4 linked regions of the Homo sapiens genome follow. The protein of the gene in region 1 purifies or fractionates together with the protein of each later gene. This does not show direct contact. Each region holds a gene or a part of one and is shown in the gene's direction. Other genes may lie near its edges. The genes, in order: P2RY12, LMBR1, TMEM161B and SACM1L.

Evidence for each region.
Region 2: the proteins of P2RY12 (region 1) and LMBR1 purify together in Homo sapiens (affinity purification with mass spectrometry; 3 studies listed by BioGRID and IntAct, with this or other methods). This does not show direct contact.
Region 3: the proteins of P2RY12 (region 1) and TMEM161B purify together in Homo sapiens (affinity purification with mass spectrometry; 3 studies listed by BioGRID and IntAct, with this or other methods). This does not show direct contact.
Region 4: the proteins of P2RY12 (region 1) and SACM1L purify together in Homo sapiens (affinity purification with mass spectrometry; 3 studies listed by BioGRID and IntAct, with this or other methods). This does not show direct contact.

The regions. Positions count from the first base shown.
Region 1 is NC_000003.12:151,374,233-151,382,126, reverse strand, and holds part of P2RY12 (P2Y purinoceptor 12), read left to right. Parts: intron 1-1,902; coding exon of another isoform or gene 1,903-2,014; intron 2,015-3,953; coding exon of another isoform or gene 3,954-4,115; intron 4,116-4,948; coding exon of another isoform or gene 4,949-5,136; intron 5,137-5,252; coding exon of another isoform or gene 5,253-5,327; intron 5,328-5,912; coding exon of another isoform or gene 5,913-6,101; intron 6,102-7,894. Other genes in the region: MED12L (mediator of RNA polymerase II transcription subunit 12-like protein), read right to left, coding at 1,903-2,014, 3,954-4,115, 4,949-5,136, 5,253-5,327, 5,913-6,101. UniProt on the Homo sapiens protein: Receptor for ADP and ATP coupled to G-proteins that inhibit the adenylyl cyclase second messenger system. Not activated by UDP and UTP. Required for normal platelet aggregation and blood coagulation.
Region 2 is NC_000007.14:156,756,746-156,764,639, reverse strand, and holds part of LMBR1 (limb region 1 protein homolog), read left to right. Parts: intron 1-844; coding exon 845-971; intron 972-1,463; coding exon 1,464-1,532; intron 1,533-2,441; coding exon 2,442-2,506; intron 2,507-7,894. UniProt on the Homo sapiens protein: Putative membrane receptor.
Region 3 is NC_000005.10:88,223,299-88,231,192, reverse strand, and holds part of TMEM161B (transmembrane protein 161B), read left to right. Parts: intron 1-2,664; coding exon 2,665-2,748; intron 2,749-5,326; coding exon 5,327-5,424; intron 5,425-7,894. UniProt on the Homo sapiens protein: Essential for maintaining normal cardiac rhythm in the developing heart and for neonatal survival.
Region 4 is NC_000003.12:45,734,174-45,742,067, forward strand, and holds part of SACM1L (phosphatidylinositol-3-phosphatase SAC1), read left to right. Parts: intron 1-1,061; coding exon 1,062-1,200; intron 1,201-3,409; coding exon 3,410-3,479; intron 3,480-3,598; coding exon 3,599-3,671; intron 3,672-4,404; coding exon 4,405-4,498; intron 4,499-4,607; coding exon 4,608-4,700; intron 4,701-5,413; coding exon 5,414-5,471; intron 5,472-7,894.

The DNA.
Region 1 (7,894 bases):
TTTATAAAGTGGGCTGCTTCTTCACTTCCTCACTGACTCACACTAATGCTGGAAAAGGAAAAATTTGCTTAGGAAAGGGAGCCACAAGTGGGCAACACCCTAAAATCAGATGAGATGAGCAAAAAAAAAGTGCAATTCAAAACAAAAACAAAAAACCACTAACAAAAACCCTATCATGCTCTGAAATATGGTCATTAATGAGAGTCATCTTAAAAGAGTTCAAATGAGTCACATGCAGAAGTACTCCATCCCAACAGATGACCTGTAAGTACCCTGCAAGGTGAGAGGAAAGCACTTCCCAAATCTCATCAGAAGAAATGAACCCCTCCCTAAGGCTGGCTTAAGGGGGCAAGGTAGTTAACTAAACAACAAGCTCTCATGGAGCTCAAATAATAGTAGTGGGACAAATAAAACTAAGTGTAACAAGTGGTTTGAGGCATGGCAATGGCATACAGAATGGCTGTGGTCCTATTTTTAGAGGTGATCAAAGGCCTCCCGAAGGAGGTAACATCTTAACAGAGAACTGAATGAAGGGAGCAGGCCATGCTAATCTCTGGAAGGGAATCTTTCCACCTAAAGGGAAGAAAAGATGCACAGGCACTGAAATGAGAATTTGCTCAGCAAGTTCAAGAACAGTAACATGGCCAGTGCAACAACCATGGAGGAAAGAGGGCCATGACTGGTAGGAGACAAGGTAGGAGAGAGAGCCAGTGTCAAATCATGTCTGGCCTTATCAGCCCGAATTTTTTATACTAGGTATACTGAGGTAATATGTGACTTCCATTTAAAAAGGTTCACTATGATTGCTATATCTAGATCTCTCCTACCCAAAAGGTGAGAAATGACAAGAGGATCAAATAAGATTAAGTGTCCTTGTCCATGTCCATCTAGTACCATTCGAGGGAAAGACATGGTGTCATAGAAACACAGTGCCACAAGAAGGGGTCAATTAGGCTGTGTATCAGGATAAAACACCTCATAAGACCAATCTATCCACTTTGCTTAATTCCATGCTCTCCAATTTCTGTTGTGAATGCTCAGTTTCCTTATAGTACATAGATGCAAGAGCCTCAAACAGTGACCAGGAGAACTGTGTTTGGTGAAAAGGCAATGTCCAAATTATTTCTAAATAAACCAACATGCCTTCTGATTTATTTCTTGTGTACTTGGTTGGCATCAATACAACTGAGTTTCTGAACCTACAGATTTCAAGCTGAAAGCGTGCCTGATAATGTGGCATCCAAGCTTGAGGAGCTGGACTCACTGCCATGCCTACTGCAGCATAGATTGCTCCAGGTCCTCTCCTATGAGGCAGAGTTAGGAGACGGGCAGATAGTTCAAAGTTATATGCAATATATAAAATTTTACTTTTATAGGCAGTACACATTTATTGTATATATCTCATTAATATAAAGTTGTTAATCTTGTGGTGTCTACAATGCCAGGTAGAAGAATAAGGCATGGATTGTTTCTCAGCGTCTACTCAAAACATTTTGTAACCTTACTAGTTGTTTTTTTTTTTTTTTTTTGAGACAGAGTTTCACTATTGTTTCCCAGGCTGGTGTGCAATGGCGCGATCTCAGCTCACTGCAGCCTCTGCCTCCCAGGTTCAAGCAATTCTCCTGCCTTGGCCTCCCGAGTAGCTGGGATCATAGGCGCACACCATCATGCCCGGCTAATTTTTGTATTTTTAGTACAGACGGGGTTTCACCATGTTGGCCAGGCTGGTCTCGAACTCCTGGCCTCAGGTGATCCACCAGCCTCCGCCTCCCAAAGTGCTGGGATTACAGGCATGAGCCACCACACCTGGCCCTTATTAATTTAATCTCAGTATTTGAAAGGCAAATAAATGAATGCCGTTAGAAAGATATTTGCCTGTCTTAATATTATACTATACTTTACCTGGTTAACTTGATTCTGGAGAGATGTTAGGAGGCCTTCCCTTTGTTCATCTTGTCCCTTAAGGCAGGTAAGTACCAGTGAGAGGAAGGGTTGTTGACTCAAAAGAGACATACTACAAAGGAAGTAATAATAACAACAGATCTAGTTAGAAATAATGCATTACTTCCTCTGGCAACATTCATTTCTTTGCCTCACTATTAGATAAATAAGAGAGGTGGTAAATAGCCAAAGACTGCTTGAAAATTTAAATCATACCTCTACTTATAAAATTAAAAGCCACTGTAATGCTTCTAAATCACTTCGTATGCTCTAATTGCCCTCGAAGCCATTCTCAAACTAGCATCAAACCATACTGCATGTGAGCATGCCGGGCAGTGAGGGTAGAAGACAGTGAATTCATCTTCTACATCAATATGCAGAATTTAAAAATGTACATCAGAAAGAATATCAATTTATACACAGGATAAAATTAAAAATTTTTAAAGTTCTCATATAAAACTCTTGTTTTAGAGTCTGGGAAAACAGGCCTATATATATGTCTGTTGAGCTTGTTTTGGGGTTTGATTTTGTTTTTCAGCACATTTCCCAAGACCAAAAAGCAGGGTGTTAGTAGAGCTAATTCATCAGCCAGGGCTGAGGACTCCAAAAACAGTGTACTTGCTGGCGACCCCTAGTGTGCAGCTCCAACACAGCCCACAGGCTCCAACATAGCCCGCAGCATCCACTGGTAAAGAGGTGTCAAGGCATTTGGTTAAAAATTCTGTTTTAAATTGGCATTTTAACAAAATGTCTTCAATTAGAGAATAATCAACAAATCATATTGACAAACAAAGCGCCATGTTGGAAAGACAAATTTCTTAAAATGAGACCTAGGCCAAAATATTTCAATCAGCATTATTCTCCATGGGCAGAATAAAGAGCCCCTGATGTGGGAAGAGCGATCTTTCAAGTCTCTTCAATACCATCTGTCCTGCCTATGGGAAGTTAGGCAATGCACATACACTCACCTATCAGCAAATATGATTTGAAAATTAGAATTATGCTTCCTTGTTGGTTAATTAATCCTGGCCAACATGGTAAAACAACCAGATGTAAAACAAATACAGTACATACAATGCTGGGTCTCTACCAAAATGTACTGTAGTTAAGAGCACAAGCTCAGAAGCCAGACCTCCTGGATTTAAACCCAGGCTTTATGTCCTTCACTGTGTGTCCTGGAGCAACTCATGTAACCTTTAAGTGTCTGTTTCAACATGATATAAAGAAGATAATGAGAGTACCTACCACATGATTGCTATAAGAATTTTAAAAGCTCATGTACATAATGAGTTTTAGAGAGGAGTTGCCATTCTGTAAGCAGTCAATAAATGGTGGCTACTATAGTATTATTCATTAGTGGACAAGAAATCTATGTGCTTAAAATATTTTTTTAATGGAAGAAATTATCAATTTTTTTCCTTTACTCCTAGGTTTCTTGGCATTTTCACATTAGGGTGAGGTTTCTTTCTTTCTCAGTAACACGGTTTTCAAATATAATTACTTGAAACCTTTTCTTGGGCATAAAATAAATTAAGAAAACATTAGTTGTGGTGGCCGAGGAGTCTTAATGTCTAGTCTAGAACAGGAGCCCTAAATGTTAAAAATATGAGCAACTAGTTCAGACACCAACATGCCAGAATTATACATTATATTTATTTTAAACATAAATATCTAAATAATAAAAAAATAGAAATAATTAAAAATAAAATACAGGGATCAGGTAGCTATCCAGATCTGATTCAGTTGGTCTAAAGCGGGTCTCGGAAATCACTGTTTTTAACAGTTCAGCAGTGATTTGGATATAAAGGCAGAATTGAGAACTAATGTATTAAGGATTATAACCTGAAATTTTTTAGGAATAAGACAGCCTTGCCTAATAGAATATTCCCAGTTCCATTTAAAAACTAAATTTCAGTGGACTGTGGGTACAGTGACCACACAGGTTTACAGGAAGTGAGACTTTCTCAATTATTCTTTAAACTCTCACACAGACGCCCATCTTCCAGCCACACCTTTTCTGTTTCTGTCTGTCCCTTTCCTTTTTGGAAGAAGAACCCAAGTGCTGTCCCTTCTCCAGCTCTTCCCCAGCGGCTTTCAGCACTCTTCCTTGCACAGAAGTTGGCAACCTGGCGATGAGGGGGGCCACCAACCATACACCCCTGCGTTCGGAGGAACTAAAATCAGAAACAGGTGTTACACCGGAGAAAGCATCCTTTCCCCTGCTCTCACAGTTATAACAGAAACTCCAAAGCGAAACTTTGATGTATGAGACACACAGACTGTTCTAAAATTTCCCTTTTATTTCTGTATTATCTTTCCTTTTTCCGAACACTAGACATTTGCATGAGCTTTCCACCTAAGCCTACAGAAAGCAATAAAACATGCAGTTCTGGAAGGATATTGTAACTAAACTGACTTTAATGTTTTCCGATGACCCCCTCTCTCTAATTAAAAACAATCACTTTGTCCAACAAACAATATACTTTTCTGTCACAGTTACAATATGAAATATTATATGTAAGCATACTAATAGCTAATTTTTAAGGTTTAAAATTCGCTAGTTATACTTTATACCAAAATGATGAAATACAAATCAGCCTTTCATGATTAAATAATTACTTTAAGACTTTATATGCCTACTGGTTCTAATTCTGCACAAAAATTACCAGGATATATTTGTGCAAAATAATTAATTAATAAAAATGGTGGAAAAAGCGTTTCCCATATAATGAATACTACGTAACACAGTAGACTAAGGGACACTGAAAGCATGAACCAAACCTGAGTTCACCTGCAGTTTCAAGGTGTTTAAGCCTACTCAATCAAATATTCCGAAGCTATCATTCACCCCAGCTTTACTCATTAACTTATTAATAATAATCCCTGCTTACAAGTAACTATGTTCTTCACATTCCTATGACTTAAAGAAAAATCACTGTGCTACACAAAATTTACCGTTACTTGTGAAAAATTCATGACAGTTCAATAAAACAACAGACAAAAATACCTTAGGAATGTCTTTATTCCATTCTGTCTCGTGCTACTTGTATCAGCACTTCCAATACTGTTTGGGTTGAAGAGGCTCATGCCAGAATTAGAAGAATTATTTAGGTCTGCAGACTGCTGGAATACCTCTATTGTTGCCTTTGCAATATTGTCCAGTAAGTTGTTCATTTCGGCCACAGAACCAGAGCCCTAGAGTTAGATATAAGAATACTGGCACATATGTGTATTCCTTTATCCTCAAACATCAACGTGTTTTTGCTTTTTATAAAATTTCATACAGAGATAAGCTTTCAATATAAACTCACAGGGTCCTTCAAGCACTGTTTGATCATTAGCTGGAGTTCTAACCAGGATTGCCTCAGTGTCCACTGCTCAAGATTCTGGGAAAAATGGAAAGAATTAAAACATTATGGGTATCAAATGTGTTAAAATACAGTAATTTCTTACAGTACTCCTTCTCTCAAGAAAGAGCAGAATAATCATACACAATGAAATAATTTATATGAGTCAAAAGGTTCCCAATCTTGCTGCATATATATTCAGTAGCGATACAAACCAATAAACAGAAACATTAATTATTAATTAGTTAATACTGTGCCTGACTCAGCTATGCACTGAAACTAAATAAGCATTTCTCCTTTCAAAATCTATTTAACCAATCCCAATCCAAAATGATTTCAATATTTCTTTAATAATATATTTAACATAGCCCCTCTCTGAAGCATATTTCTCATGTAAATACAATACTGATTTAAAATATCAATATTTGTTTGATGATCATATACAATTTGCAGCATGTACATCCACCCAAAAATAAAGTATGTCAATTCCACAGAAAATGTGTGGGAATAAAAATCAGAATTGAAATCACAAATTAGCAAGGACAAAAAAAGAGAGGAAGTAACTCTTTTTATTATTACGAAGAATTTATCAAATGACAGAAACACAATCTGTATACGACTGACCTGAAGAATACGCTTAATGTGCTGTCTTTGCAGATTGTCCCCCTCGGTACATTCTTTAATGCCATGAGGATAACAGATAAGCTGCAGTAATTTCTGTGCTTGCATATTTGAAAGCACAGGGTCCAATATAAGTTCTTTGTCTGTACATAATCTTTCAGGTTCTTTTAAGCAATGCTCTCCTACCCATTCCTAAAAATAATATGGCAATTAGATTGACAGGCACTGGCTTTCGGTATATATATATGCAATATGTACTAAATCCACAGTGCATAATTGAATAGAAAACTGATAGGAATTTTCCAATTTAAAAAATTACATTAAAAAGTAGGTAGAAAAATTTTAAAAAACAAAATTTTTAGCATTTTGGCTTCTAAAAAATACAAAGTAGAACTTGCTTAAAAACATTTTTTAATGGGAAAAAAGAAAAGACAATAAAGAGAATATTAGTATGTTTTTAACTGGAAAGTAAGGTCTTGCTCTAGGCACTATTTTGTGTCAGTTTTTTCTAACTTGCTATATAATGATTCTATCAGATATACGTTCTTCATAATTTTTATGGAATACATTGTACTATCTCACTGACTAGATACAACATAGTATAACAAATATTTAGAAAACGATCTTCCTTTTTGATACTATTATGAATAATGTTATCATTATAAATGAGTAGTAGTGCACATCTCTTTTTTATACAATAATTTTCTTAGGGTAATTTCATAGAAGTGCAATTGCTGGGTCCAGTGTGAGTGGGGGGCTATAGATGCATGGGGTTAATGACCCTCTGAAGAGTTTCTACCAATTTAAACTCCTATTGCCTTTTCTTTACCATTTTTTTCAAAGGCAAATTATTATACTAAATAAAGTAAGAAATCATCAACAGTAACAGAGCCCAATTTGAACCCAGATCTATTTCGGGTGAAGTCTGTTTTTTAACCACCATACCAGTGGCTCAATGCTGGTTGCCCACTAAAATTACCTGGGATCTTTATAAAATTCCATGCCCAGGGCCCACATCAGACTAATTAAGTCAAACTCAGGTGGTGGCACCCAAATATCAGTAATTTTTTAGGCATCCAAATTGTTTTAAATGCCCCAGCTGATTCCAATATGCACTCACAGTTGGGAACCAACACACAATTGCCTCTCAATACTTATATGACTATGTAGCTATCTTTTACCATAGTTATAACATGCCTGTAAAAATACAAAAACATGACCCAGTCGGTATGACACCTATAGCAAAGTACAAAATAATATATAAGGTATGTCACTTTTTTTTTATAAGAGAACTTTTAAAACAAATATATGGGAGGGAGAATAAACCAAAAAATAATAAAACTGGATCATCTGGTAAGAGGGATATGGGAGGGAGACACATCTCTGAGTATACTTTTTTGTATAGTTTCACTTTTGAAAGTAAGCTATTCTATAGCCAGAGCTGGGGACAAGAAAGGAATTTAAATAATGCAAAACCAAATGAACCTAGTTCTATTTCACATAAAGAATACACTCATAGGGATGGGAAAAGTTCAAATAATTTTTGAACACAGTATTTTAAACCCTTAGAGAAAATGGAATTGCAAACAAATCTTCAAAGCCTTTTAGGTAGGTTTGTTCTTCCTAGTGGTATGTGTGTAACATTTCTTTCTTTCTTTCTTTCTTTCTTTGAGACAGAGTCTTGCTCTCTTACCAGGGCTGGAGTGCAGTGGCGCAATCTCGGCTCACTGCAACCTCCGCCTCCCAGTTTCAAGCGATTCTCATGCCTCAGCCTCCCAAGTAGCTGGGATGACAGGCATGTGCCACCACACCTGGCTAATTTTTGTATTTTTAGTAGAGATGGGGTTTCACCATGTTGGCCAGGCTGGTCTCAAACTCCTGGCCTCAAGTGATCCACCTGCCTCAGCCTCCCAAAGTGCTGGGATTACAGGCTTGAGCCGCTGCGCCCTAGCCTAGTGTACATTTTTGATACTGTATTTTAATTA
Region 2 (7,894 bases), on another chromosome or scaffold:
TGTATTTATAATTTTGTTGGTTGTGTTAGATAATTGTAGGTTAGTGCATTGCAGTACAAAATATCAATATGATGCTTTAACTTATAGGTGCAGATTCAATCATTGGGTGATTTTTTGGGGAGTAAAAGCGGTTTCTTTTTTTGTCTTATCCTGCAGTTTTTAAGTTTTAAAAGTCTGGCCTTTAGTTTGGTCCTGAAGTCAGAATTTGTTTTACATTTAAAACAAAGTTGTGCATAATGATTATATTATTATATTCTTGTCTCATGGATTAATGAAAATTCTATATAATGTGAAGAAAAGCATCATATAGAACTGATAAAAGCAGTATCTCTATAGTTTATAATGCTGGATTACAATGGACAGTTCTTCAGCGGCACAGTAGAGGGCTCCGGAGGCTGTGAGGAGCACCAGAGTCCATGCTAGAGAGAGCCGGCGCTCTCCAGCAGCTCGGAGCATTGTGGCGCACCAAGTTCAGTGCTCACTGAACTGTTTGGCTCTGTGCCATAATTAGCCTTCTATTCCCTTGATTAGAATCACGGATAGAAATTCATTAATCTGCTTTGTTAGTGGAAAGTGTTAGGAAAGTAATTGTTAAAAATGGCTCTGCAGATGTTTTTTATGAAGAATTTTTTTTGTGTTTTATCCAAGCTTAATAATATTTTCCATAATTTGAAAAGTCAGTCTAAACATTGTAAACCATAAGTACCTAGTGTTTTTTTCCTTTTAATAAATATAAATTTCCTCTCCTTCCAAGGGATTATTTTATGCTTTCATATAGGCAGAAACCTTATTGTTCATGAAATGAAGTAAAATACTAAAATTATATTTCTACTCTATTTTTCAGGGAATCCGAGCCCGCATTTTAGAGACTTTGGTCATGCTTCTTCTTCTTGCGTTACTCATTCTTGGGATAGTGTGGGTAGCTTCAGCACTCATTGACAACGATGCCGCAAGCATGGAATCTTTATATGGTATGGATTTCCTTGTTTTAACCAGTTTCCTTACTGGAAACTGTAGTTTGGGATATAATTACACACTCAATTTTAAAAACATTTAAATCTTTGTGTAGTTAACAAAGATGTTTGATGTTAATTTACAGAATTAAGAAATCTTTAGATATTTTTATCTAAAAATGAAGTTTTATTTATTTTATATGTGAAGAACAAGTAAGCAGCTTTTCAGATTTTTTTTTTTTGTTTTTGTTAATTGGTTTCTGTTCTTCAAATTCCGTGGAGACATTTTTTCTCCCTCCAGACAGGTTTTGCTAAAGGGTTACTTCTTGGTTTTCTATTTTAGATCTTTTTATTGTACAATTTAGAAATTATATGGCTTAATAAACTAAAATAGGCAATTACAATGTTTACATGAGGTACAGTCAGCCTCTATCTTATCGTAAGATAGACTGACTATCTTAATGTGCAGTATTTTGGATTTATTAAAATATATTTACTTTTTTTTAATAGATCTCTGGGAGTTCTATCTACCCTATTTATATTCCTGTATATCATTGATGGGATGTTTGTTACTTCTCTGTAAGTATTTTTCAGACTTGATATTAAGAGAAAAGTAGAGTTGTCCTTATTCTGGAAAATTCAGGGAAGTTTTCTGATGAGATTTCTTAACTATTTGGATTTTTTTTGAGTTCGCCTTAACTATTTTTATTCAAAATAAATTTTGATAAATGGAAACTTTGAAATAATAAGATGCTTTTATTGTTCTCTAAGGAAAGCTTCTTCTACTGGGTTGTAGAGTGAGACAGACGGACAGACACACACACACACACACACACACACTCACACTCACACACTTTCACACACTCATATACAGTCATACTTACATACACTGACACACAAACCATGTGCACACTCATACACACATGCTATAGCCTCACCCCCATACCTGTCATAATGCTAGATTCTACTTTTAAATGGAAATGGTAGAATTATGTATGATAAGTTTGTGGTTTTTTAAAAGTTTGTTTTGTTTTACTTGAAGCATCACAGCCTATCTCAGGGATAAGTAGATAAATGTAGTTTAAAGGACTTAAGACTATGGTTGTCACCTTTAGATATTCTTGTTTGTTTCTCAGTCCTATTAATACTTGAAATTTAACCTGTTCTTTGCTAATTTTTCTTTATTTTAAGCAAAAGTATTTATTATTATTCAACTGCTAGAATCTTGAATATTATTCTAAGCCTTTTTTTGTTGTCACATATCTTTCATAACTAATTACACCTATCCTGCTCACATGGCCCCTCTAGCTTCTTTATTGATGATGGTGAAGAGTTCTCTGACAAAACACTGACAATCTCAGTTGGAGAGAAGAATGTTCTTAAAATGATAATCCTTGAATTTCCCTTATTTTTACAGTCTAGTTGTTTATCTCTTTCTCCAAGCTCTATAATGTCGCTTTCTGTCTTTTGGTGATCTTATTTCTGCAGTGTGTACACCAGTTGGCCTTTCTCGTATGTTCACAGTGATGGGTCAGTTGCTAGTGAAGCCAACAGTAAGTATTTAATTATAAATCATTTTGTTTATTAAATAAATGTGTTTACATTTGATTGTCTTTGATATTGTGAGCTAGCATTTAGAAATAGAAGAAGAATATGTTTTGTATGTTTATCACTCAAATTGTTGTTTTATTAAGTTTTTTTTTTTTTTTTGAGACAGAGTCTTGCTCTGTCGCCCAGGCTGGAGTGCAGTGGTGCGATCTCGGCTCACTGCAGGCTCCGCCCCCTGGGTTCACACCTTTCTCCTGCCTCAGCCTCCCGAGTAGCTGGGACTACAGGCCCCTGCCACCTTGCCCGGCTAATTTTTTTGTATTTTTAGTAGAGACGGGGTTTCACTGTGTTAGGCAGGGTGGTCTCAATCTCCTGACCTCGTTATCTGCCCACCTCGGCCTCCCAAAGTGCTGGGATTACAGGCGTGAGCCACCGCACTTGGCCTATTAAGTTTTTTGTTTAATAGAACTTTGGTTAAATTTCCAGTCTTTGGAAACCAAATTTGGTTTTGCTTTTAAAATACTAACTATAGGTGCATAGGTAAAAATTCCTCTAGCAAATTTTAGGACAAAATTTACAAATATTTACAGGTATTTTAGGTGTCCATTGCCTAATATCAAAAAGTACCTCTATTATGTTTCAAAATTTACATGTATGCTTTAATTTACAAAATGGTTATATTTCTGAAAATTTGTCTGCATATTGTGTCTCGATTAATTGAAGCATACTTTACCTTTCATCTTAGAAACACTATATATTAGTTTTTAAATGATTTTCAGTTGATTGTAATTCTAATGATTTGTCGCTTTCTTTGGTCTCTATTTTGTCAGATATTTAATTATATAAAAACGATTTCTTAGCTGCCCCTAGGAAATCTGTCACTTATTTTCATGGATCCTCACTGCCTATGAACTCAAGAGTAAACTACTTACATGTTACAAAGCCTTTCACAGCCTGGTCCACACTCAGTTTTCCTCTAGCTGTCCCTGTGTTTACTGTCACTCTAGCTCATGAGCGAACTTGCTGTGCTCTGAATAGGCTCTATGCATTCTGTCTCCAGGACTGTCTCTTTCCCTTCAAGGCCTCTTACCTGCTCCAGCTACCTAGCAGCCTCCTACGGCCTAGCTCAAATATCAGCTCCACTGTCTACATAGCTTTGAACGTTGCCTTGCTTCTTCAAGGACAAAGAATTAAAGTCCTTTCTTTGCATTTCTCATATTCCCTTTTGTTTCTGTCTCACTAGTAATACTTATTAAATCGTTATAGTTATGTGTTTGTCTTCCTTGTCATGATTCATTTAGGGAAAATACTGAGGAAGTGTTATAGGGGCTATACTTTTAGTAAATGCTTGCTTAATTTTGAAAATCATAATATTTTTATATTTTAAAGATGAAGTTTAATTTTTTATTTTTAAAAAATGCGTAAATACATTTTACAAAAAGTATGTAAATGTTGTATACACACTTGTGTACCACACACATGCTGCCAAGTCTTGAAATTCCTTTCCCTTGTAAAGAGGTTTTGGGACATTGAATTCATTTAGTTTCTTCCTACATTTGTTGTTGTTTGTTTGTTTGTTTGGTCTTCTTTCTCCTTTTCTGCTTCCTGACCCCTAACTATAGGCAAATGTTTAAAGTTCCATCATTGGTCTAAATTTCTATTAATGCTCTGCTCCTAAACCATCTCTGCCATTTCCACATCACTTTTAAATGCCTAATTCTAATGAGGAAAAGACAATGGAAACAAATTCCAGTACATTTTAAGTGCTATAATTGAATACCCCATGGAGCTGAAAACTCAACGTATATAAAACGAAACTACTTACTTAGCTCCCTTCCCCAAGCTAATTTTTCTCCTTAACTTGTCTCTTATTAATGTTAAATATAGTGAACCCCAAGTTTTTCCTCAAAGAATCAGTATGTCAGTGTGTTCAGCTCTCTTCTTCTTCGATTCTCCATTTTAAAGTTTAACTTCCTGGTTCTCTTCTCCCCCTTGCCTCTGGTTTCAGTAAACAACTTTCCCACCAGTCCTAATCAGTATTTCACATCTGTTCGCTGGTCACCTGCTCCATCCTGACTCACCCCTGGTCACCTTCTTTGACCTGAGTCACCCCTGGTCACCTGCTTTGACCTAAGTCATCTTTAGTTACCTGTTCCTAACTGTCCTTCCTGCTAGACTAGTCACCCTGCCACTCTGGCTCATATGCCTGCTCCCTTTAAAATAGCCAGTCGGAATTAGCTTAGACTGTGTGGTCCAACCATTGTCAATAGGGGAACGACACACTAGTAGGGCCCTGTGTCAGAAATAAGAACTCCTTCCCCTCCCCTGTGCAGGTGTGCTCTCTCCATTACTCCATTTGCCAGTCGCACCCTTCTATAGAAGTAAAAATTGCCTTGCTGAGAAAATTAAATTTATGTTCGAGTGCTATTTCTTTGCAGCACCAGGGAACGAGCATTTTGCATTTCTAACATTAACAGTATCCTCAAAGTCTTGTCTTTGTTTCTTTTCTTGTTGGTAACATTCAGTAATAAAGATTATTTATTGAGTAATTGAGTGTATTATATATGCTAGCAATAAACACTATATTTTACACACATAATTTCATTTTATCCTGATGACAAACCTATAAGTTAGATAGTAGTATTCTTATTTTATGGCTAAACTAATGTCATTTCAGGAAGATTAAGTAGCTTGTACAAGATCAGAGATCTATGAGGGGGCAGAGTGTGAACCCAAGAGGCTGGTTTCATACCAGAAGCTGGTCTGCCATTCTATTTTGCTGTAAGCTCCAGAGCTGTAAAACCGATTTGTTTGCTGAGTGGACTTTACCCCTCCACTTCTGTGTTCTGCTTACAGTTTCCTCTAATTGAAATGCCTTTCTTTTGGTAATTTAAGCTGTCAGATAAGATGCTACTATGCTACTACCATCAAAAACACTGGTCGAAACTTTTGTCTCCCCATCTGGGAATAATTTTTCTTCCTTTGAACTTTTGTAATGTTTTATTTAAGCCACGGTTATGACTTTAACAAATCTTCTAATTATTTTTTAAATTCATCTGCTCTCTTCTGCTACACTAGAATATCAGCTGTTTGAGGTCAAGGACTATGTCTTACCCATATTTAAGCCCCCATTAGCCCATAGTAGTTGAGTATAGGGTTTGAAGGCACGTAACATTTCTTTGGTAACCCTGCTTCTTGGAATATAAAATGGAGATGAGAACAGTCTGTTTTTCGTAGGATTGTTGTAGAAATCAAGGAGGATGGTGCTCATAAGAACTTAACACAAATATATGTGTGTTATTTACATTGTCACTGCATTAGTCTATTATGCATTGGTATAAACCTGAGGCTGAGTAATTTATAAAGAAGAGAGGTTTATTTGGCTTATGGTTCTGCAGGCTGTACAAGAAGCATGGCACTGGGACCTGCCTCTGGCTAGTGCTTCAGGAAGTTTCCAGTCATGGCGAGAGGCAAACGAGGAGCATTTGTGTCACAGGGCAAGAGAGGGAGCAGGCGAGAGAGAGGTCCATACTCTTTTAAACAACCTGCTGTCATGTGAACAAATAGAGCAAGAACTCAGTTATTACTGTGTGGACAGCACCAAATCGGTTATTCATGAGAGATCCACCCCCATGACCCAAATACTTCCTACAGGGTCCCACCTCCAATACTGGGGATCAGATTTCAACATGAGGTTCTGAAGGGACAAATATCCAAACTACATCAGTCACTCATTCACACTAAGACATACCCGTGGTGATAAGTAATTCTTGGACAATTTGCATAAGAAAGATAAAAATCCTTTTGTATGCCTTAGACCTTATGTAAAAACTGTCAATTCTGATCCAGATAGTAGAAAGTGAAAAGAAGTGTTGATGGGAAAGGAACTTTGGATCAAGGCCCCCAAGGACCTGGTCCCAGACATGTGGGTTTTCTCTGGGATTCCTCTCCCCTAACCCACTGCATCCAGGAGATCCTCTCCGTGTACCACTCTTTCTCCTCGGGAGTAGCTCACATTCCAGCACTTGCCACTCATTTCAGCCTAAATGTTCCCTCTTTGGAGAGGGCTTGCTGGCTGGCCATTTAGGTATCTCTTCCCCTTTTCTTCCTATTCCTTTCTTCCTCATAGGATGGTCATTCTTTGTCATTATTTGTTTGTATATTTATTTGTTTATTACTGTTGATTATTATTTTAGTATTTGTTTTTTCTCACCTTCCAAGTCAGGCTTCTCAAGGATCGAGTTGGTATGTGTGCCAGTGATGAGTTCAGTGCTAGGTCATAGGGGACCGTAAAGATTTGTTGAAAGGCTGGGAATTATTGGATTGCTTCAAATAAATTTCACATCAGCTGTATAAATTGGACATCTGACAGGGATTGCATGATTTGAAAATCTGTTTTCTGAAAATACTTTAAAGTCTGAAAGGAGATGTATATATGGTTTCTGTCTTTTTGTCCATTAGCTCCTCACAATTTATTTTTTTTGCTGAGTGTGAGTAGTTTGGATGTGAGGATATGGAACACTGATATCAGCTCTAGACTTCTTTGAGATTTGCCCTACAGCTACGAAGATAATAAGGATCCTCTCAGAAGGATAGCTATGTTAACAAAACTAGAATTAAATCAATTTTAGGATTTTTAACAGTGCAGACAATATCCCATACAATTGGTAAATTATTAGTATGGTTTTTTCTTTTGAACTACTGTTGTTTGACTTGGTTTGTATGTAAACATACCACTTCTCTAGATTTTGGTCTATTGGATGATTTTGATAATACCAATCTTTAATATTCATGGAGTGTTTTTAGTACATAAAGATGATATAAATGGAAAGTGTTGCATGTTACTGATGTAGTTTATGGATTTCTTGTTTTAGACATTATGTAGGTAAATGTAAATGAGAAAACAAATGTTGGACTGGGTGTCTGTTCCTTCTATCTCTAAAATATTGGCTTGGGCCTATATTTACTGTAGTTATTTACCGTAGTTAGCTTTTTGGCTGTTTAAAATTGGTACATGTAGGCTGGGCGGGTGTGGTGGCTCACTTCTATAATCCCAGCACTTTGGGAGGCTGAGGCAGGCGGATCACCTGAGGTCAGGAGTTCAAGACCAGCTTGGTCAACACGGTGAAACCCGTCTCTACTAAAAATACAAAAATTAGCTGGGCATGGTTGTGTGTGCCTGTAGTTCCAGCTACTAGGGAGGTTGAGGTGGGAGGATCGCTTGACCCCGGGAGGCAGAGGTTGCAGTGAGCTGAGATTATCGTACCACTGCACTCCAGCCTGGGCATCAGAGTGAGACTGTCTCAAACAAACAAACAAACAATAATAAAAAAATTCATACATGTAGCCCACATCTCAGAATGTCACTAAAAAACCCCAAAATTCATACATTT
Region 3 (7,894 bases), on another chromosome or scaffold:
TCTATTATTACAGTATTATTTAAAGAAAGCGCATAGGGTAAGTTCTGGGAAAGAGCAGAGTTTCCATGCCCTTTCACTCTGAAGTCAGGATTTCACCCTCTGGGCACATCAATGTGTTAACCAACAGGAATTTTCTCTGAGCTTTGAAGTCCAGAGTTTTTTTGAGTTTCATTATATAGGGACAATTTTAAGTCATTGATACGAAATTGATTTCAATGATCCAACTTAATTTCCAGGCCCCTCCCATCACTGGAGGTCAAGTTCCTGAAAGTCCTGACCCTCTAATCATGTGCTTGGTGTTTCTGATAATCAGCTCCATCCTGCAGCTATCTGGGGCCCACCTTGACCTACCTCATTAGCATAACAAAGATACTTCTACACTCTTGTTTTTATAAGGACTTTTAAAACTCTGTGCCAAGAACTGGGGACAAAGAGCAGATATATTTTTTATTATACCACAAGAAGACTGCTTGTAAACAATAGGAGATAAGAGTTTGCCAAGTAGGGGCATAGGTGTTCACAAGGAGAGAAGAATATATGCAAAAAGCACCAAGGGATGAAAGAATTTGTGAGGAAGAAAATGTCACTTAGTCAAGCCAGAAAGTGTCACCTTCAAATGGGAATGGTTGAAGGTGAATCTGGAGAAGTAGGCATTGGTCAGATCATGAAAGGCTGTAGAAGCAAGAGATAATGCATGACCCCCATACACATGTGGGCCTTGAAATATGTGTTTTAATGGGAATTTTCAAGTATACAAGGAGTAGATAGAATTATGAATTCCTGTGTACTCATCACAATTAATAGCTGATGGCCAAACTTGTTTCATCTGTACTTCCCCCAGCGTACATTTCAGTATATATATCAAAAATAATGAGATTTTTAAAAATTACCACAATCTCATTATCATACCTAAAATTTTTTAATGTAATCAAATATTCAGTGGGTACTCAGATTGCCAGTTCTACAGTTGTTGCAGTTTTTTTGTTTGTTTGTTTTGTTTTGTTTTTGAGATAGGGTCTTACTTTGTTGCCCAGAGTGGAATGCAGGGGCACAATGATGGCTCATTACAGCCTTGACTTCTCAGGCTCAAGCAGTCCTCCCACCTCACCCTCTCCCCCGACCACAGGTGCATGCCACCAGACCTGGCTAGTTTTTTAATTTTTTGTAGAGATACGGTCTCACTGTGTTGCCCAGGTTGGTCTCAAACTCCTGGCTTCAGACAATCCTGCAGCCTTCTAAAGTTCTGGGATTACTGGTATGAGCCGCCATACCTGGCCTGCCGTGTTTTTAAAACAGCAAATCAAAGAGACTGTGCACCATGGCTAATGCTTATAATCCCAGCATTTTGGAAAGCTGAGGAGGGAGGATCCTTTGAAGCCAGGAGTTCGAGACTACCCTGGACAACCAAGTGAGCCCCTGTCTCTATTTTGAGGACGGGGGGAACAGCAATTGGGAAATTTCAAATTTAAAAAATCTAGATTTTTGTAATTGAAGAATTGGGGGGTCTAGCATACTAGATATGCATTTTTTCCTTTGTAATAATAGGGCCTTTGTCAAAGTTTTTGCCTAGCTGCCTTATTCATTGCTTTTCCCTGTGAGGAGCCTTGGAAATGATTTAAACAGGCATGGGTCTTGATAAGATTTGTATTACGGAAAAATAAGTAAAGGTGGTCCACCTTTCTGTAAGATAAAAAAAAAAAAAACCAATAACTAGAGGTAAGCTCAGATGGATTTGATGAGTAATGTGTCCACAGGAAGGCAGGGAGGATACCAGTGAGAGAATTTTGCAGTAGTCAGATGTTCAGAGGAAGATACACTGAACTAAGGTCTGAACTAAGGTCTCTGCAGTAGGGCAGAGTTTAGAATTTTAAGAGTTGAGAAACAGAATTAATAATAGCATGTGGAGAGGGCACATTGAAAATAAGATATGAATATCAAATTTAAGTGATTTGTAGATAGTTGGGATGACTAGGCAAGCCATGAAATTCAGGATGAGCCACTTGGTGCTTGGGAGGGAATAATTGATTAATTTGGATCGTGAGTATTTCTTCACTTCAGATTAAAGTATTTTGACTGTGGTAGAGAGGGATACAACCAGTTGTTGGATCCTTACCTGAGGAAGGTTAGATATAGCTAAAAGTGAAGTGTTTTTTAATACAATGATTTTCTGTAATTATTCTACACACAAAGTTTGAGAATTCTCGAACTAAATTAAAAAAGGGAAAGAAAGGAAAGACTACCTGTAAATGTGAGAATTCATTCAAACACCTCTCTTTTTAAGATAACTCTCAATTCCTTCAAATGAGGGATTAGTAGAGAATTAATGTGCTCCTGCCCACTTGGCTACAGACTTCACTTTATTTACTTTTAATAATAAGCCTGTATAATCTTAATATGTATTAATACATTGTCATTTGTAAGAAATATACATACAAATGGCATTGTAGGACCTGGCATCTAGTAAGTGGTTGGTTAAGTGTCTGCTGGATGTTTATCTAAACCCTTTTAAAGTTTAAGAGTTAGTATTTGTTTCAGATTACAGTTTTCACCTGATATTTCTCGACAGTGTCTTCACAAATATGAAACTTAATAAATATTTATAGGATGAAGAATAATTCTGGTGATTTTAAGCGCTTTATTTAAAAGAATTCTTTTTTTGCTTAGTTTGAGGTGGTATCAACATCCTACAGAAGAAGAATTAAGAATTCTTGCAGGGAAACAACAAAAAGGGAAAACCAAAAAAGATAGGTAAGTTTTATTGAGCTTGTAAAGTAATAAATATTTAACACAATTTATATAAATACATTTTTATGCTTTGATTAAAGAAACATGTACCAATTATGTTGTAAGTAGTTGATAAATTTGAGATCAAAACCCATGAAAATCTAATCTGTAGTAATATATACACACAAAATAGTGATTATTTTACTCAAGAACTTTATTCTTTGTTTAAATCATGAAAACAATATAGCCATCATACTAAAGAAAATGTAATTGGGGGTTGACTGGGGAGAGACTTATAACCCATATCTTTATCCTACAACTAATTAAAGACGTCAGTTGGTTTGGGTTATTTTCCAGTTTTTGCTGCTACTGTGTATTGTGGCATTGGGGAAATTAACCTGCTCTTGGCCTCAGTTTCCTCATTTTATAATTAAAAGGGAGGGACAATATAACTGTGTAGGTCCCATCAGCTCCTGAATGTTCTTTTCATGTTTAAAGTTTATGAAGAGAACTACCTACTAATTGACCTCACAGAACAGACCATAGAAGCCTCATCTGTGACTTGGACAGAGTAAACAAAACAATGTTTTGAATAATCCTTCCAGCTTTAAGATTTTATATCTCTATTTAAATAGAATTCTTAGGGAAAGTGTATGTTAATTACCTCTCTGAATGGACCGTAGTTTTCTCAACTGGGGATCTAGGAGGACTTCTTAGGTCCCCTGTGACTCTGAAATGATTGATTGACAACAAATTATAACCATATTTCTCATGTATATCATAAAAATGCTAACCTAGCCTAATACATTTATAGAAGCTAAAAAATGATTAAACATTAATGATTATTTGGCATCAAATTGGAAATTTGAAAAGACTGTCTTTTTTGATCTTACTACCATCCTTTTTCACTTATCATTACAAATATACCTGGAAGCTCATTGGACTATTAATAGTAAACCTTCCTTCTTTTTATTCCAGTAGTTAAGTTCTTTAATAAAATAGTCCTGCCTAACATTATAGTTTCCAGAGCACTTTTATACACAGTTCTACTTAATCCACAAAACAACCGTGTTAGCTAATAATTTAATTTACACTTTACTAATGAGAAGCTAGGATCAGAGATGTTAAATGAGTTGCCCAAATTTACATAACTAGTAAGGTTACGTACTGGTAACCAGGATTTGAATCTAGGTTAGTTTTTAGTTTCTGTTTCTTTTTAACTATTCCCCTTCCACCCATTTATAGCTACTATGTTCAACATTTGTAAAATTTAGTTATGTAGAAAGAGTCTCACTCTGTCACTCAGGCCGAAGTGCAGTGGCACAATTCTGGCTCACTGTGGCTTCAACCTCCTTAGGCTCAAATGATCTTCCCACCTCAGCCTCACGAGTAGCTGAGACCAGATGCATGCAACACCATGCCCAGATGATCTTCCCACCTCAGCCTCCTGAGTAGCTGGGACCAGATGCATGCAACACCATACCCAGCTAGTTTTTAAAAAAAAAAATTTGTAGAGACAGGGTCTCCCGGTGTTACCCAGGCTGGTCTCTCCTGAGATTAAGCAATCCTCCTGCCTCGATCTTCCTGGCCTCTCAAAGTGTTGGAATTACAGGTGCGAGCCATTGCACCTGGCCTGAATCCTTATTATAATGCCTTGTAATGAATAATTCTGTTCTGCAGTAATTTTTAATAGGTTGAACATGCCTTATAGTTACAAAAAGATACATTAACATTGCTGCCTTGTTCCTAGTAACAAGAATTATTGTTTGGTTTATTAACATGAAATTATTTTTTACTGAGGCTTTCCAGTTTTTTATTCAAGGATAAATGCAAAGTTGTTTTTCAGTATTGAAATTAATATTATTAAAACTTAGTTGAAGCTGGCCATGGGGGTGTGTACCTGTAGTCCCAGCTACTCAGAGGCTGAAGCAGGAAAATTGTTTGAGCCCAGGAATTTGAGTCCAGCCTGGGCAACTGTGTGTCTAAAGAAATACATAAAGTAATAAATTGAAACCTTAGTTTATTGCTTTCTATATGTTTGTCTTTAAAAATTAAATTTGGGAATCATACAGATACACCGGAAGAATTTGTTTTCCTTCATCTGTGATTTTTAGTAAAAACTATTCCAAGTTAGTCTTTCATGTTTCTGAATTTCTCATACACGTAAATCTTTCTTCAACTCTGACTTGCATATGGTTCCGGGTCTGTTTATATGTATGTGTGTGTGTGTGTTTATACACGTCACTTCAAGGAGAAGTGCACTTTGTCTTCATTTGCATTTACTCTTGTGCCTAAAGAGAAAAGAGAGTAGGAGAAATGGGTGTGAAATGCTAAGCTAGAAAAAAAAAGATTTTGTTGCAGTAACTAATTTAGGTAATTATTTCCCTGGTAATCTGTATATTCACATGATAATTTACATTCAGATTTTATAGTACCCCTTTAAAAACTACCTTTGAGTACTTTACCTCCTTATTGATGAAATATTAGAAATTCTGCCTTTTCACTGTGAAATTTAAAACTTCATCTGTAATTAGTTTGAAACAAGCACTTGGATAACAGTGTAGGTAACTTGTTTTTTGTGTCACTTGTCTGATTTTTATAGGAAATATAATGGTCACATTGAAAGTAAGCCATTAACCATTCCAAAGGATATTGACCTTCATCTAGAAACAAAGTCAGTTACAGAAGTGGATACTTTAGGTAAGGGAAATCTTGATAAAATGTTCTATAAATCTCAGTTTTATATTATAGTAGTGAAAGTACTTTCATTTTAATCATTAAGTCCATTATAGAGAATATGGAATCTTTCTAAGAACTTAGAAGCTCAAATGACTTCATTTGAATTAAATTTATTTTTTTGTTCACCTAACTTGTATTATTTTTCCTATTTTCGGAAGAGGCTAACTTACACAAATTTATTACACAGTTTCTGTTTATTAGATTGAGGTCACAGTCAATTTTTATTATCTAGAATTCTAGACTTCCTTTTACTGTTTATTTCAGTCTGCCCTTTTCTAATGTGGCTTGCAAAACTGCATTTGAAATGTCCGGCCTTGAGCAGCCCAGGGGTTGGGGTGCCTACTTTTATGCAGTTGAAAAATCGAGTATGACGTATGACTTTTTACCCCCCATAACCTAACTACTAATAGCCTACTGCTAACCAGAAGACTTACCAATAACATAAAAAATCAACACATATTTTGGCTGGGCGCGGTGGCTCACGCCTGTAATCCCAGCACTTTGGGAGGCCAAGGCGGGCGGATCATGAGGTCAGGAGATCGAGACCATCCTGGCTAATGTGGTGAAACCCCGTCTCTACTAAAAATACAAAAAATTAGCCAGGCGTGGTGGCAGGCGCCTGTAGTCCCAGCTACTCAGGGAGCTGAGGCAGGAGAATGACGTGAACCCGGGAGGCGGAGGTTGCAGTGAGCCGAGATCGCACCACCGCACTCCAGCCTGGGCGACAGAGCGAGACTCCGTCTCAAAAAAAAAAAAAAAAAAAACAAAAACATATTTTGTGTGTTATGTGTATTATATACTGTGTTATAACAATAAAGTAAGCTAGAGAAAAGAAAATGTTATTAAGAAAATCACAAGGGAGAAAAAATATATTTCCTGTTAAGTGGAAGTGGATCATCATAAAAGTCTTCAACACTGTGATACTCACTTTCAGTAGGCTGAGGAGGAGAAGGAAGAAGAGGGGTTGGTCTTGCTGGTCAGGGGTGGCAGAGGTGGAAGAGAATCTGCATATAAGTAGACACGCACAGTTCAAACTGTATTGTTCAAGGATCAACTGCATTTCTATTGAATTACCCATATTTAGAGTAATTCAATTTTATTCTCACATATAGTAGAAAGGAAAATGGTTTTAGAATACTGAACTGGATTACAAATCAGAAAAATTTACTTATTCAGGATTTACTTTCATCCATTTATTTCCAAATAGGTCATTTAGTTTTCCTCCTATATATTATAGAAATGTAGTATCTCAATTTTTGTAATTATATAATGACAATGATTCTAGTTTAAAATAATATTAATATGAAATTATTTGAATCCTAGAAGGGAAAGGCATCTAAGTTGATAACAATTTAAAACACTGGTTTTTAAACTTGGGGATATATCAAAACCACTTGATGAGTTCTTTGAAATAGATTCCCTACTCCTATCCTTGAAGATTCAGTAAATCTAGAGTAGGTTTTAGGAATTTGTATTTTTAAAAGTGCTCCAAGTGATTTTGATTTTTGACTAGGTTTGAGAACCACTGGTTTATGTGATAAATGAAATGATGCGTGTTTTTAAAAAATAATTTTGATAATGTCATATAAGGTGTCATTATGTAATTTGACCCTTCTTGGGTTAAATCATACCACCATCAAAAAATCTTAAGAGGTCCAGCATCTCAAATAGGATTATTTTGTGATACAAAGTGGCTTCGAAATACGTGAAAGTTTATTATTACATCTGTAAAGGTTGTATGTATATGTAAAGCATGTCCTAGAACTAAAAAATATCAGTGAAGAACAATATAAATCACTTGTCTAATATGATTTAGACTGTTTTTTTTTTTTATTTTTTTTGAGATGGAGTCTCGCTCTGTCACCCAGGCTGGAGTGCAGTGGTGCTATCTTGGCTCACTGCAAGCTCCACCTCCCAGGTTCACGCCATTCTCCTGCCTCAGCCTCCTGAGTAGCTAGGACTACAGGCGCCTGCCACCACGCCTGGCTAATTTTTTTGTATTTTTTAGTGGAGACGGGGTTTCACCGTGTTAGCCAGGATGGTCTCAATCTCCTGACCTCGTGATCTGCCCGCCTCGGCCTCCCAAAGTGCTGAGATTACAGGCATGAGCCACTGCACCTGGCCCATTTAGACTTTTAAGACTGGTTATGTCTTCCTCTTTTTTCTTTTTAACTGTTTTACATTCAACATTTAAAACATTTAAAGGCACTTTGACTTTTTGATTAGTAGTTGTCACATTTGTTTCACTACTCCTATATGCGCTTACTTGTATAAAATGTTCATAGACGTGTATAAATACAAGAATATATAAACATTCTTCCTGATTTTTAGTAGTTTTGACATTTTTACTAATAATGTTTATTGAATACTTTGTCAGCTAATTAATAAGATCTTAAAATTATTGAGTATCAGACATTGTTATAATATTTTA
Region 4 (7,894 bases), about 110 Mb from region 1:
AAGCCAAGGCAGACGGATCACCTGAGGTCAGGAGTTCAAGACCAGCTTGGCCAACATGTCAAAACCCTATCTGTACTAAAAATACAAAAATTAGCCAGGCATGGTGGTGGGTGCCTGTAATCACAGCTACTCAGGAGGCCGAGGCAGGAGAATCACTTGAACCTGGGAGGCAGAGGTTGGAGTGAGCTGAGATCATGCCACTGTGCTTCAGTCTGGGTGACGGAGGGAGATTCCATCTCAAAAAAAAAAGAAAAAGAAAAAAAATATTTTTAAGTATTTAAAAAAAATTTTTTTTAATTTAGATACAGGATATCGCTCTGTCACCCAGGCTGGAGTGCAGTGGTGTGATCATAGTTCACTGCAACCTTTAACCCTTGAGCTCAAGTGATCCTCCCACTTTAGCCTTCTGACTACAGGTAGGCACCACCATGCCTGGCTACGTTTTTGTTCTTTTAGAGGCAGGGACTCGTTATGTTGTCCAGGCTGGTCTCGAACTTCTGAGCTCAAGTAATCCTTCCACCTCAGCCTCCCAAGTAGCTGGGATTACAGGCACGCACCACCACGCCCAGCTAAAAGTATTTTTAATGCAAAATATTCAATCCTTGCCTCAGAGATTCTGATTCAGTTGATCTCAAGGCCAGGAATCTTTTTTCACAAGCAACCCAGAGGATTCTAAAGATAGTATATGAATCATAAAGCCCTGACATCTAGGGATATAGTTGGAATAATTATGTTAGAGGAAACCCTCATCTGGCTTTGGGAAACATGATTGATTTGCACAGCAACCTTTTTAATACTCTTAACTTTACTTTTTCACATCTTTGGGGTGAGATGATCTCTAATCTTCAGCCATTTTTTGGATGGAGGGCTGTCTTGCCTCAGCCATTTAGACTTCTTTTTGGTCTAGGATAATCACATATGCCTGACCACACATTCCTGTCTGACCTTTTAATTTACAGTTTTTAATAATGTCACTGAAATGAGACCCATGTTATAAGAGTTAAGTCCTTAGTAAATCTGACCTACTTTGGTATGAGAGTGTTTATACAAATATGTTTTAGTTATTTTCTAGTGGACTCTGCTGGCCAGGTGGTGGCAAACCAGGAAGGCGTGTTCCGAAGCAATTGCATGGATTGTCTAGATAGAACCAATGTGATCCAGAGTTTGTTAGCTCGTCGTTCACTTCAGGCCCAACTTCAGGTGCGAATGCTTTTTTTTTTTTTAATTGAAAAACAACACAGCAAAAAATTAAACATCTTTAAAACCCAGTAACAAAAAATATTCACATTGCCCACACCCTAACCCAGCTCTTTTTATTTTTGTGTCTTGCCCATGGATGTCACATTTTCCATAACTAGGGTCAGTCTGTGTATGCACAGTTTTCACTTTTGCCATTTTCCCTTAGCATTTATGTAATCACAGTTTCTGGTGGTTGTATTGTTGTGCCGTAATTTACTAAGCCATTCAGATTGCTACATTTTTGGTTTATAAATAACACCGTAGAGAATATATCTGTATATGTTATTATTAACTTGAATTATTTCCTTCATGTTAATTCCTAGAAGTGGAATTACTGGGTTAAAGAGAATAAATATATTATTTTCCAAGAGCGTCATACCAGTTTACACTGACACCAATAATGAATCAGTAAATCCATTTCATTGAACTCTTCCCAGCATTTGATATTTTAATTTTTTTTTTGTTTTTCCTTGAGAAAGTGTCTGGCTCTGTTGCCCAGGCTGGAGTGCAGTGGTGCAGTCTCGGCTTGCTGCAACCTCTGCCTCCTGGGCTCAAGCCATCCTACTAACTCAGCCTCCCACAAAGCTGGGGCTACAGGCATGTGCCACCACACCTGGCTAATTTTTGTATTTTTTTTTGTAGAGACAGGATTTCACCATGTTGCCCAGGTTGGTCTCAAACCCCTGGGCTCAAGCAGTCTACCTGCCTCAGCTCCCAAAGTGCTGGGATTACAGGCTTGAGCCACTGTGTCTAGCCTCTTTTTTTTCTATTTCGTTAATACAAAAGTAGCACCTCAAGATTGTTTCTATTTATCTCTCTCTTATTACTAGCAAGGAATATTGACTCCAAAGTAAAAAGTTTCTGACACAGCTTTGCTTTACCACTAGACTATGCTGTTGAGAAAAATGGTTTTTTTCTTCTGTGTATATTTGGAATGAAAAAGATGTAGAGCCCCAATTTTTAAATCACATTGGCATTTGTTGTGAGGGGCAGACAAAATGCATACCACATGGTTTCCTGTTCAGGTAATTAGTAAGCATTCAGCTTTATTTCTGACAATTGTATGATACCGAGAAAGAAATTATGGAGGTAAAATACCCCCTTCAGAATGAATTGTTCTTGAATCTTAAAGTCACACCTGCCAGAGGAGTGCTGTCCCTGTTGGAGTAGTCTGTAGTTTGTATTGTGCTATGTCCTCGTCTGTTGGAAGGTCTTCTAAGTGTAGTTTTTAATAGAAACAATATTAGGAATGGTTTGGTTCCATGGCTGATTAACCAAAACTTACTTGACTAGGCTCTGCAATCCATATTTTACAATTTTACATGCTATATATAGTATTATGAAACCTAACCAACCTGCAGAGAGTGGGGGCAGGAGCCTCTCCAGCAGCTTTGCCTACTAGTGTAGGGGCTGTCTACTTGTGCCTCTCCAAGTCTGCCAGTGAAGGCAGAGTTCTTACCCAGCTAAAGGTCACCAAGGTGGCTCCTGTGCTGTGTCTGAGGGTGGGAATGACTCCTTCTGAGGTGGAGATGAGGTGTCATCTGAGGTAAGCAATGAAGATGGTGGTTCTCAGAAGTGATGGTCTGAGACAAGGCAGGGACTTGTCATCTGTGGTTGGTGGTCTCCAAAGGGGAGTCTATAGAGGGGATTCAGGGGGCCCAGCAACCCTGGGATATTCTATGTCTGTGTGTGTGCACTTTTGGGGAGGTAGATTAGGTGGCACTCATCAGATTCTTAAAGGTCCCTGGGACAGAGGGTAAGGCTGGGGTGACTCAGGGGTGAAGAAGTTGAGGGATGATGCATGTGAGGGGGTCTCAAGGGGTAGAGGCAGTAGAAGACTGGGGGTAAGAGGGAGGGAGGAAGTAGCGGCTGGAATCCTATAGCAGCTTTCACTCTCTCTTCTGACCCTCTCCCTGAGTATAGTCCTGCTGCTATCCCTCAAGGGAGTGCGGGGGCTGCAAGGCAAAGGTGCCCTCAGGAGAGGCTTTGCAGTCTGCCCTGGGCAGGAGAGGGCTGCTGTGAGCTGGGGCCCCCTATAGACAACAGACATTTCTGGCCTGCATCCAGCAACCAGGCACCATGAGATAAAATTTGGGGACTGCTTTTTCTTCCTAAACCATGTCTGCTAAAATCTATTACACATAAATCTGGGTGTGGTTTTTTATTCCAGAGACTAGGAGTTTTGCATGTGGGACAAAAGCTTGAAGAACAAGATGAATTTGAGAAGATTTACAAAAATGGTAGGTCATTTCTTTAATATAGACAAAGTTGGTCAGATTTTGAAATAAATTAATATTCTGGATTTAGAACTTTGTTTGTCATCTTAATAATTATCAGCTGTTTTTACTTTTTTCTACAGCCTGGGCTGACAACGCAAATGCTTGTGCCAAGCAATATGCGGGAACTGGTGCCTTGAAGACTGACTTTACCAGGCAAGCCATGCTTTTAAAATAGCATTCCACATCAGTAGTTCACAGTCCTGGTGCTTTTAAAAATCACCTGGGCAGCTTTCAGACAGCAGCAGCAACAACAGCAAGACTCCAGCATCTGGGCCTCACTTGAGACCTGTGGAGTCAGGATTTCTGGGAAGTGAGGCCCGGGTACTGGTGTGTTCTTAGCCACCCTGGGAGATTCTGATGCTTGGGGAGGGTTGAGAGCCACCGCTCCACAGTGCTCCTCAGACCTTACCGTGTACCTGAAGCACCAGTCTTGAGATGTGCTCTAAAAAGCACCCAGGTGATGCTGATGCTGCTTTCAAAGACTGCACTGAGTAATGAGGACATTAATGAGAACATTTTGAATGTATTATGCATGCAGTGGCTCTTTTTCTGCTATGTGGGTTCCCTGGGAGCAGAATAAGATTTCTAGTCTGTTTGCTTTGCTGTGTCCTACCACTTAACCTGGGCTATGTATTTCTCTTCATATTTCTTGTCTTTGCAACTGGAATTAGTGTGTTTCTTTGTGCCTCCTTTGGTAATATTTTAGAAAGAAAATAGGTATTTCTTGGACCTACAAGTGATTTCTTTTGTGAAGTATCTGTATTTTCAGGGATAGTTTTTAAAATCTGTCACTCACTTATTTCTATACCTTATGCTTATTGGCCATAAAACAGTGTGAGAATTCAGTGTACAAACCTGTAACTTAAAATTTAACCTCTTTAACCAGAACTGGAAAGAGAACTCATTTGGGACTTATAATGGATGGCTGGAACTCAATGATACGATATTATAAGAACAACTTTTCCGATGGATTTAGACAAGTAAGTTTGTATTTGATGCTTTCCTGGCATTACGTGGTTGTATCTTTGCATTGTTCATCACTAATGTTATCTCACACTGAGTTTACGAATTTCTTCCTTTCTGTTCTAGGATTCCATAGACTTATTTCTTGGAAACTATTCAGTGGATGAATTAGAATCTCATAGTCCTTTAAGTGTTCCAAGGGACTGGAAATTCCTGGCTGTAAGAAACCATTTTGTATTTTTCAAGTTTTTAAAAGCATTGTGTCTGAAGGTATAGATGGTTTCAGTCTCAATTTAAAACGTTATATGTGGTTTTATATTTCATTACATGAAATATAAATACTTAAGTTTTCCAAAGAGGTCAGGCTGAGGAGTACAGTAACTGTGGAGCATTTGTTTTCTTTTCCTCAGACTCTCACACATCCTTTTCATGTGAAGTAACATAAGCAAAGGGAATGTGGAAGCTTTCTCATTTCAGGAAAACTTCAATTCTCTTACATTGAGGGAATTGCCAGAGACAAACGTGTTACATGGAAGGCAAAGTTTATTTTTGATGCTTCTCTCCTTTTTGACTCCTCTGTTCACCAGACCCTGCAAGAGCCGCTCTGGATTTTCTTTCCAGTGTGTCAAGTGCTCTGGAATGGAAGGGAGGCCTAGTGTTCTAGGTCCTCATCTGGGCATCCTCCTTCCATTTAGCACCCTTTGGCTTGGAGCAAAAGCATGCTTCTTCCGATCTTACCACATCCCCCATCTAAAGTCTAGGGCAGTTGTGATTGAACCCATAAATAATAATGTTTTGTTGACAAAAGATATTAGCTGTGTATTAGCTGACAGATGAGTTTTATTCTTTTCCCAAGCAATGCATGCACAACTGATTTTGCTGCCATTGATTAGCATTCTTAAATGATGATCTCTTTCTATTGTCTTTTCCAGTTGCCTATTATCATGGTTGTTGCCTTTTCAATGTGCATTATCTGTTTGCTTATGGCTGGTAAGTCTGCTCCACACATTTGTTTCTTAGTTAGAATGTTGACCTTTCTTTTACAACATCTTAAGTTTTTGAGTTCACCGAACACTTGATGTTTCCCTATTAAATTTAATGGGTAAAGTGGATGTGACATTAGATTGTCATTAGATGTGACAGGAAGAAAAATAACATACCTAGTAGTTTGATGGTTGTCGTTTTTTTTAACCTCAGATTTTAAAAACATGTTTTTCTTATTACTGTAAACCAATGAGTGTCTGAGACAGGTCTCAGTCAGTTTAGAGGCTTAATTTGCCAAGGTTGAGGACCTGCCCAGGAAAAAGAGACACAAGATACAGTAGGATCAGTATCTTGTGCTTTTTCCAAAGAGGGTTTTAAGGACTTCAGTATTAAATGGGGAAAGAGTGTACAGGAGAGGAAGGAGGAATGGAAACAAAAGGGGAGGGTAGGTAGTAAGATAAGTGGTCACATTCTTGTGAGGCTTTGATTAGCACTCACTGAATCCATGTTACATGTGAAAGGACGGGGTAGAGGAACAGTCAATTATGCATTCATCTCCTGCTCAGTAAATCTGCATTTTATGTAAGACAAAGTAAACATAGAGTAGATAAAGAAGTCAGATCTGCATTTGTTTTGGGGTGGGCGGAGGGATGATTTTCTAGTCTTGTCTTTGTCCCATACCTGTGAAAATAAACTGTTAATTTACATTGTCAGGGTGAGGGAGATTCAACAGGACTGTCTTTTAGGGTAAAGATTTTGGGGCCCACAAGGAATTTGCTTGTGACAGTTTGTGAGGGTGGCCATCTGTGAGGATATGTGGCCCACTATCTTTGCAGCTGTCTACTTAGGAACAAAAGGAGGGTAGTTTTGTGAGACTCAGTTCCCAAGTTTAACTTTTTCCTTTGGCATAGTAAATTTGGAGTCCTGAGATTTTATTTTCCTTTCACATTACCAAAGTAATACATAGTAATTATAGAAAGCACACGTAGGCAGAAAAGGAGAAAATATTATTTATCATCATACCTTTGAGAGAGAAGCTAACCACTCTTAACATTTTGATGTTTTAATCTTTATAAGTGTCTGTGATTTTTTTTCAAAAGTGAGATACGTATTTTCATTATCTGCTTTTTTTCACTGAGCAGTATGTTTTCCCATGTTCTTAATTGCTAATGGCTGCAAAGTATTCCATTTATGGATGTATAGTTTAACCAACTCAAATAAATGTTAATGGATTAAGATATTACTTATCATTACATTTTAAAGGTTGAGAGTAAAATTGCCTGAGAACCTGAGGAGACAAGGTCTTTACTGGTTTTCTTTTTTCTCTTAATATTTTGCTATGTTACTGAGTTAATAAAGCATTTAAGATTAAAGTGAGAAGAATGTATTCTTTATTCTCCTTTGAGTAATGTCCTGTAATTTGGAGGTTTGAGTCTGAGACTTGGTGTATTGGACGTTGGAGATGCAATCCTAGTCACTCTGAAAGAAGAGGCACCTTCCAGCCTTCATCCTCTATCCTGAATTCGTTGAGCCAACCTCTCTCTGCCTGTCTGAATTCCACCATCCTCAGGGCACCATTCATATGCTCCCCTCTCACAGAGTGTCTCTCCCACACAGAAGTCTTCACCTTCTGTCTGGATTTCCACAGCACTCCTGGTCCTCTCTCCCAGCACTTTCCTCTTTTAACCTCATTAATACATAGGGAGTTATTTTTCAGAGGTGGTATACCTCTTTGGTGTACCTGACATACCCAGTGTGTATTTCTTTTTGGATGGTAATGATTTGCATACTTGTTTGTTTTTTTCACTGGATCAGCAACTTTTTGAAGGTAAAGACTGTGTCTTACTCATTGTTTTATCTCCTTTGTCCAGGATATAGTGAGCCCTCAGTAAATGTTTGCTGAATTAAGGACTCACTCCACCACCACCACTAATTCTGTCACCTTTTTGATAGGGAGGCTCAGTTACCTGTTCATCTCTGTATTCCCCTCAGTGCTCAGCCCTGTAGACAGTCGTGACATAGTTTTAACTAAATGCTGAAATGTTGAGTAGGGGGAAAGAAAGAGCCATCTTATTATTATTATAGTTAGCAAAATTTTTCTGTAAAGAGCCAGGTAGTAAATATTTTTGTCTTTATGGATGGCTGTACATTCTTTGTTTTTGTGTTTATAACCATTTAAAAATGTAAAAAGCATTCTTACCTTACAATACAAAAACAGGTTGAAGCACAGGTATTGCCTGGGACATGACTGCAGGTTTTAGGGCAGGAAGGAAGAGGCAGCATGTGCCGGTTCCTCAGCGGCCAGCCCTGCTTTCATTTCCTCTCTGGGTCCTCTGCCTTCTTTCCTGAAAACACTGCCCAGCGCATGCCATTTTTGGGGAGCCACTCTACTGTTAAATTAGTTCATTTTGTTGTTGTGACTATACCCA